2 linked regions of the Homo sapiens genome follow. The protein of the gene in region 2 purifies or fractionates together with the protein of the main gene of each other region. This does not show direct contact. Each region holds a gene or a part of one and is shown on either strand. Other genes may lie near its edges. The genes, in order: YTHDF2 and NRCAM.

Evidence for each region.
Region 1: the proteins of NRCAM (region 2) and YTHDF2 fractionate together in Homo sapiens (co-fractionation; one large-scale study listed by BioGRID). This does not show direct contact.

The regions. Positions count from the first base shown.
Region 1 is NC_000001.11:28,760,860-28,764,686, reverse strand, and holds part of YTHDF2 (YTH domain-containing family protein 2), read right to left. Parts: intron 1-3,827. UniProt on the Homo sapiens protein: Specifically recognizes and binds N6-methyladenosine (m6A)-containing RNAs, and regulates their stability. M6A is a modification present at internal sites of mRNAs and some non-coding RNAs and plays a role in mRNA stability and processing.
Region 2 is NC_000007.14:108,449,806-108,453,632, forward strand, and holds part of NRCAM (neuronal cell adhesion molecule isoform A precursor), read right to left. Parts: intron 1-3,827. UniProt on the Homo sapiens protein: Cell adhesion protein that is required for normal responses to cell-cell contacts in brain and in the peripheral nervous system. Plays a role in neurite outgrowth in response to contactin binding.

The sequences.
Region 1 (3,827 bases), on a different chromosome or scaffold from region 2:
GCCTGTAATCCCAGCACTTTGGGAGGCCGAGGTGGGTGGATCACGAGGTCAGGAGTTCAAGACCAGCATGGCCAACATGGCAAAACCCCATCTCTACTAAAAATAAAAAATTGGGGCCGGGCACGATGGCTCACGCCTGTAATCCCAGCACTTTGAGAGGCCGAGGTGGGTGGATCACGAGGTCAGGAGTTCAAGATCAGCCTGGGCAAGATGGTGAAACCCCCACTACTAAAAAAAACAAAAAAAAAATTAGCCGGGCGTGGTGGTGGGCGCCTGTAATCCCAGCCATTTGGGAGGCTGAGGCAGAGAACTGCTTAAATCCAGGAGGCAGGGGATGCAGTGAGCTGAGATCGCGCCACTGTACTCCAGCCTGGGTGACAGAGCAAAACTCCGTCTCAAAAAAATAAAAATAAAAATAAATAAAAATAAAAAATTGGGCCGGGCACAGTGGCTCATGCCTGTAATCCCAGCACTTTGGGAGGCCGAGGTGGGCGGATCACCTGAGGTCGGGAGTTCGAGACCAGCCTGACCAACATGGAGAAACCCCCGTCTCTTACTAAAAATACAAAATTAGCTGGGCGTGGTGGCACATGCCTGTAATCCCAGCTACTAGGAAGGCTGAGGCAGGAAAATCGCTTGAACCTGGGAGATGGAGGTTGCAGTGAGCCGAGATCACACCACTGCACTCCAGCCTTGGCAACAAGAGAGAAACCCCGTCTCAAAAAAAAATAAAATAAATAAATTTAAAAAATAATAATAATAATAAAGATATGAGCTGGCATGAGTTAAAGTATATATAATAGGAAAAAAAAAAACAAAAGTTGGTTCTTTGAAAAAATTAAGATTACTTTGTACCCCATAAATATATACAATTATAAATTGTCGGCCAGGCTCAGTGGCTCACGCCCATAATCCCAAAAAAAAAAAAAATTGGCTGGGCACAGTGGCTTACGCCTGTGATCCCAGCACTTTGGGAGGCTGAGGTGGGCGGATCACCAGGTCAGGAGATCGAGACCATCCTGGCTAACATGGTGAAACCCCATCTCTGCTAAAAATACAAAAAATTAGTTGGGCATGGTGGCACACACCTGTAGTCCCAGCTATTCAGGAGGCTAAGGCAGGAGAATCGCTTGAACCTGGGTGGTGGAGGTTGCACTGAGCTGAGATCGCACCACTGCACTCCAGCCTGAGCAACAGAGGGAGATTCCATCTCAATAAAAAATAAAAATTAAAAATAAATAAAAAACTAGCCAGCCCTGGTGTCAGGCACCTATAATCCCAGCTACTCAGGAGGCTGAGGCAGGAGAATTGTTTGAACCCAGGGGGCAGAGGTTGCAGCGAGCCAAGGTCACGCCACTTCACTCCAGCCTGGGCAAAAGAGCAAAACTCTGTCTCAAATAAAAACATTAAAGATATTAACTATGAATAAATTAGGAAACTACAAGTCCAGACAGATCTGGTCTGTGGCTTAAATAACTAGAAATAATGTCGACATCTCTATCCACCCATCCACCTTAGGCCCTCCTCACTTTAAATCTATGATTACAAAATAGAAAACTCGGCTGGGTGCAGTGGCTCATGCCTGTAATGCCAGCACTTTGGGAGGCCGAGGCAGGTGGATCACTTGAGGTCAGTAGCTCAAGACAGGGCTGGCCAACATTGTGAAACCCCATCTCTACTAAAAATACAAAAATTAGCCAAGCGTGGTGGCACATGCCTGTAGTCCCAGCTATTCAGGAGGCTGAGGCAGGAGAATCAATCACTTGAACCCGGGTGAGCCAAGATCGCGCCACTGCACTCCAGCCTAGCCAACAGAGCTAGATTCTGTCTCAAAAATAAAAATTAAAAATAAAATAAAATAAAATAGAAAATTCAGTCTCTGGAGGAAATATACAAAAAGCCATAAGGTGGCAATGTTAAAGTCTGCACATATGCAATCTCTTCATATAATATTCAAAAACAGTAAATCTGCCTATTTAGCTTCCCTCTATTTAAGCTTAATAACCTTTCTACTTACTACTGCACTGTTCTATCCCTCCCTCTCCCTTCACTTTCAAGTGGGCCATAAAACACAACTGAGGCATATTCATATTCACCTGGATATAATTTTATTAACATTAAAATCTGGTAAATGTTTATCTCTCCCACAAAATTAAATCTATATAGCTCTCAACTAGTTTTTCCTATGCCCCCATGAACCTTGAAAGAAACCCAAAGTTCAGCACCCCAGCTGACAATATAAAATGCTTAGACGGGAGTCATTCTTTGAGACGGAGTCTCATTCTAAAATTCTTTGAGACAGAGTCTCGCTCTGTTGCCCAGACTGGAGTGCCGTGGCACAATCTCCACTCACTGCAAGCTCCACCTCCCGGGTTCATGCCATTCTCCTGCCTCAGCCTCCCGAGTAGCTGGGACTACAGGTGCCCGCCACCATGCCCGGCTAATTTTTTGTATTTTTAGTAGAGACGGGGTTTCACCGTGTTAGCCAGGATGGTCTCGATCTCCTGACCTCGTGATCCGCCCGCCTCAGCCTCCCAAAGTGCTGGGATTACAAGCGTGAGCCACCACGCCCGGCTAGGAAAATGTGTTTTTAAAAGTGATGTGATGACACAAAAATTACTTCCATTGCTTGATATGGTTTAATAGAATCAACCTTTATAGTCTCCAATGCCGTGAATAAGTTAAATAAGTCTAATGACTTGACTTTAGACTTCAAGTCATATATATATGAAACATCAAGTCATATATAATTAAGATGCTAACTTCCCCCAGATAAAGAGACAAAGTATTTTTCATCAGTTCTCCAATTTAAAGCAAGGCTATAATATTTTATTAAAAATATCTATTTTGGCCATGGTACCTCCTGCCTACAAGCCCAGCACTTTGGGAGGCTGGGACCAGCAGTTTGAGACCAGCCTGGGCAACATACTGAGAACCTGACTCTACTAGAATTTGAGACAGAGTTTCGCTCTTGTTGCCTGGAATGCAATGGCGCAATCTCGGCTCACCGCAACCTCCACTTCCCGGGTTCAAGCGATTCTTCTGCCTCAGCCTCCTGAGTAGCTGGGATTACATGCGTGCGCCACCATGCCCAGCTAATTTTGTATTTTTAGTAGAGACGGGGTTTCTCCATGTTGGTCAGGATGGTCTCGAACTCCCAACCTCAGGTGATCCACCTGCCTTGGCCTCCGTTATGTGCTGGGATTACAGGCATGGGCCACCGCACCAGCCAGAAATTTTTAAACATTAGGCCAGGCATGGTGGCTCACACCTGGAATCCTAACAATTTGAGAGGCCAAAGGAGGAGGATCACTTAAGCCCAGGAATTCAAGAACAGCCTGGGCAACACAGTGAAACCTTATCTCTCCAAAAAGTTTTTTTAATTAGCCAGGCATAGTGGCGAACACCTGTGTGGTCCCAGCTACTTAGAAGGCTGCAAGAAAAAGTATGCTTAAGCCCAGGAGGTCAAAGCTGCAATGAGTTGTGATCAGGCCACTACACTCCAGCCTGGGTGACAAAGTGAGGCCTTCTCTCAAAAAAAAAAAAAAAAAAAAATACACACACACACACACACACACACTCATGCACGATATAATGACATTTCAGTCAATGACAGATCAGTAAGATTATAATGGAGCTGACAAATTCCTATCACCTAGCGATGTCGAAGCCACTGTAAGGATGTAGCACAAAACATTACTCACTTGTTTGTGGTAATGCGGTGTAAACAAACCTACCGCACTGCAAGTCGTATAAAACTATAGCACGTAAAATTATGTATAATAAATAATACTTAATAACAAATTCGGCCAGGCGCAGTGGTTCAC
Region 2 (3,827 bases):
GAATGCTCTCAGCCCACTTGAGAAAGATAAATCAAATTCATTGCATATTACCCAGTGGAAGACCTCCTACAGGATTCCCTCAGATTGCCCTAGAAATAGATTTTTTTTTTTTCTGGTTACAGTGGGTTTTGAACCAACACACTATGCACATAATAAAATTTAAACATATATATATATTCAACATATATATATTCAAAATATAGTTTCCAGCCCTTCCTACCATTATTTAATGAGAAGAATTTCAAAAGGATCATTTTTGCCTGACAGTACCTGTCATTTTCATTCTCATGTGAATTAAACCATGTTTTAGTCCAGGGCAATATGGAAGAAATTCGGAGAGCACATAATACAAGTAAGATTCATCATTCCTGTGTTCGAACTGAATATGCCATTAGGACAGTATGTGAGTACAGGAGCATTAGTGGTTATAATTTGTTCCCTTTACCACTGGCTTTTTTTTTTTTTTATCTTCACTAGCTTCTTAGTCACTTGATGGAAACCCTCCATCAGACTGTTAAAAATTACCTTTTTCTAATTTGAAATTCCAATCTTGTAGGCCAGTAAAATAGGTCAATTAAGTTGACACCACATCTTTTTTATTAGCTCAGCTAAGCAATTATAATTGGGTGGTGAAGGTTTATGCTGTCATCTTGGAAGATTCAATGGTAGGGAGAAATGCCCAATGTGGAACTATAATTTACAATGCCAGTACATCCCTAAACATTCAGCATAAGAATATTTCTATTTTCAGATATGAGGCAAATTTGCTCTTGTTCTAGATTAAAATAATAATGCCATTTTTTGGCAGTAAAAAAAGCATATTTATTTAACTTATCCTCATAGCAAAATCATTTAGCACAAGTGTATTACAGACATAGGTACTTTAATTCAACATTTTAGAAAAATACCATGAATGTATGCCATCAATGCTGGCTTATCCTGGACTTGGACTACAACACATATGCTCCACAACATCAATTTCTTGCTTTGCACAAAGTATGTAATCAATTAATACTTGTTGAAAACCATATACCTCCATATTAATAAATGTTAAACCAATAAATTAGAAATGCTGTGAATGACTTGTTCAGAATATATAGATATTAATTTACAGCTTTAAAAGATAACAGTGGCTGGGCGTGGTGACTCACGCTTGTAATCTCAGCACTTTGGGAGGCCAAGGTGGATGTATCACCTGAGGTCAGGGGTTGAAGACCAGCTTGGCCAACCTGGTAAAACCCTGTCTCTACTAAAAATACAAAAATTAGCTGGGCATGGTGGCAGGTGCCTGTAATCCCAGGTAATCAGGTGGCTGAGGCAGGACAATCACTTGAACCAGGGAGGCAGAGGTTGCAGTGAGCCGAGACTGCAGCATTGCACTCCAGCCCAAGTGACAGGGCGAGACTCCGTCTCCAAAAAAAAAAAAACAAAGAAAGAAAAAAAAAGTAACAGTGATTGCACTTCAAACCTATTAGGATGGCTATTATCAAGAAAACAGAAAATAACAAGTGTTGGAGAAAATGTGGACAAACTGGAACCCCTGCGCATTGTTGGCAGAAATGTAAAATGGTACAGCTACTATGGAAAAGAGTATAACGATGTCTCAAAAAAAAATAGAACTACCATATGATCTAGCAGTCTCATTTCTGGGTATATACCCCAGAGAATTGAAAGCAGTGACTCAGATATTTGTACATCCATGTTCATGGCAGCATCATTTGCAATAGCCAAAAGATGAAAGTAACCCAAGTATATATGACATATGAATGGATAAACAAAATGTGGCATATACATACAATGAAATATTATTCAGCATTACAAAGGAAGGAAATTCTGACACATGGATCAACCTTGAAGGCACTATGGTAAGCAAAATAAACCAGTTACAGAAAGACAAATAAATACTGTATGATTCCACTCATATGAGGTACTTAGGGTCATCAGATTCATAGACTGGAAGTAGGATGTTTGTTGCCAGGGGCTGGGGGCTGAGGGGTTATGAACTATTGTTTAATGTGTACAGAGTTACAATTTGGGAAGGCAAAAAATGTTCTGGAGAGGTATAGTGGTGATGGCTGCACACAATGTGAATGTACTTAATGCCACTGAAGTATACACTTAGAAATAGTTTAATGGCATATCTTATGTCATATATATTTTACAATAAAAAACTTAGCAAAAACATTTTTTAAATAAACATATTGCATTTGCTGCCCCATTTAAAGACAACCTGATAATGAAGGATTTACAGTTGCTGACGCTGAAGGCTGAGCCATTCCCCTATTTCCTTCCTCAGGTAGCCTTCAATTTTAAGAGAAAAAATAAAAATTTGTCAATTCATTTTGGTACATCTTCCTATTCTTAGAAACTTCAGTCAAACTCATAGAAGCAGAGAGTAGAATGGTGATTGCTAGTGGGTAGGGGAATTGGGGAGATGAGATGTTCTCACCACACATACACAAATTAACTGTGTGAGGTGATAGATGTGTTTATTAGTTTGATTGTGGTAATCATTTCACAATGTATACATATATCAAAATATCATGTTGTACATATTAAATGTATACAACTTTTACTTGTCAATTATATCTCATTAATGCTGTGGGGGGGGGAAGAAACTTCAGCCTTTGATCCCAATAGAGGCTGTTTTAAACAGAAGGAGCTTTTCATTTGCCAAGGCAGTAAAATGTTTAAGTAAAATAAGTCACTGGATTTTTGCCCTTAGCATCCAGTTCTCTCCTCTGTCCTCACCTGCCAGGAAGGTTCCTGGAAGGGATGCTTCAGGTAGGGAAGCATAAAATTTTAAGGGAAAAGCATATCTAAATGTATTTAGTAATTTTCAAATCACTTCCTCTTCATCAATCATTGCAACAGCTGAAGACTGAAGTAAAGCAGTCTTTTGATTCAAATGCACAAAACTTCCTAAAGAATATGTTAGAAGCTCTACATTCCAGTTAAATTTGCTATGGGTTACCGAGCTTCTCAGATGGTAGGTACTCTTTGAAAATGAGGATGAGATTCCAATAGCTGCTGATCTATGGTGAGAATATAAGGAAAAAGCCTCAGTGCCTCAGTGGTTACCCTTTGGGGTGAGTAATGACTGGAAGGGACCACAAGAGGGCTTTCTCAGATGTGCATTACACTGTTCCTTGATCTGAGTGCTAGTTAAGTCAATGTGTTCAGTTTGTGCAAGTTCATCGGCTATGCATTTGTGATATGTGAAAAAAACTCTGTGTGATGAAGTATGTAGCTAGATGATAAAATTAGAATTAATCTTCCCAAGGACAGATATTCTGTTTGGTCACCACTGTATCCCCACTGCCTGGAACACAGTAAATATTTATTAAAGAATGAAGGAATGAATGAATGAAATCTTTTTAACGGAAAAGCTTCCTGTAGAGTTCCATTCAACAGCTCCTATGTACATACACAATATAATATCTGTAGAGTCTATTTATATTCAATCTGTTACACAGGGAAAATTACACCTGCATGAAAGCATTATTTGAAATGATTCTTGAAATTTTCTACAGCCCAGGTGTATACATTCTCAGGACCCCCTCACACTTCTGAAGCACTTACACCTAGCGATTATTGCCATCATTGTTGTATTGGCCTCACAGGAAGTACTATTTCCAAAGATGCTTTGCTTTCTATTCACTGTTACCGTAGCATTAACAAAAATGATGTGGTGTAAGGGCAATGGCCTTCAGTCCAAAGACCTCATCACTACCCTGCATTACGAGGCTGAGCCCTATTGCAGTTGTTTTGAAACTCGAAGGATTAGTTAGATACAATGTTGCCTGAGTCCTCTAACAGCTCTAAAA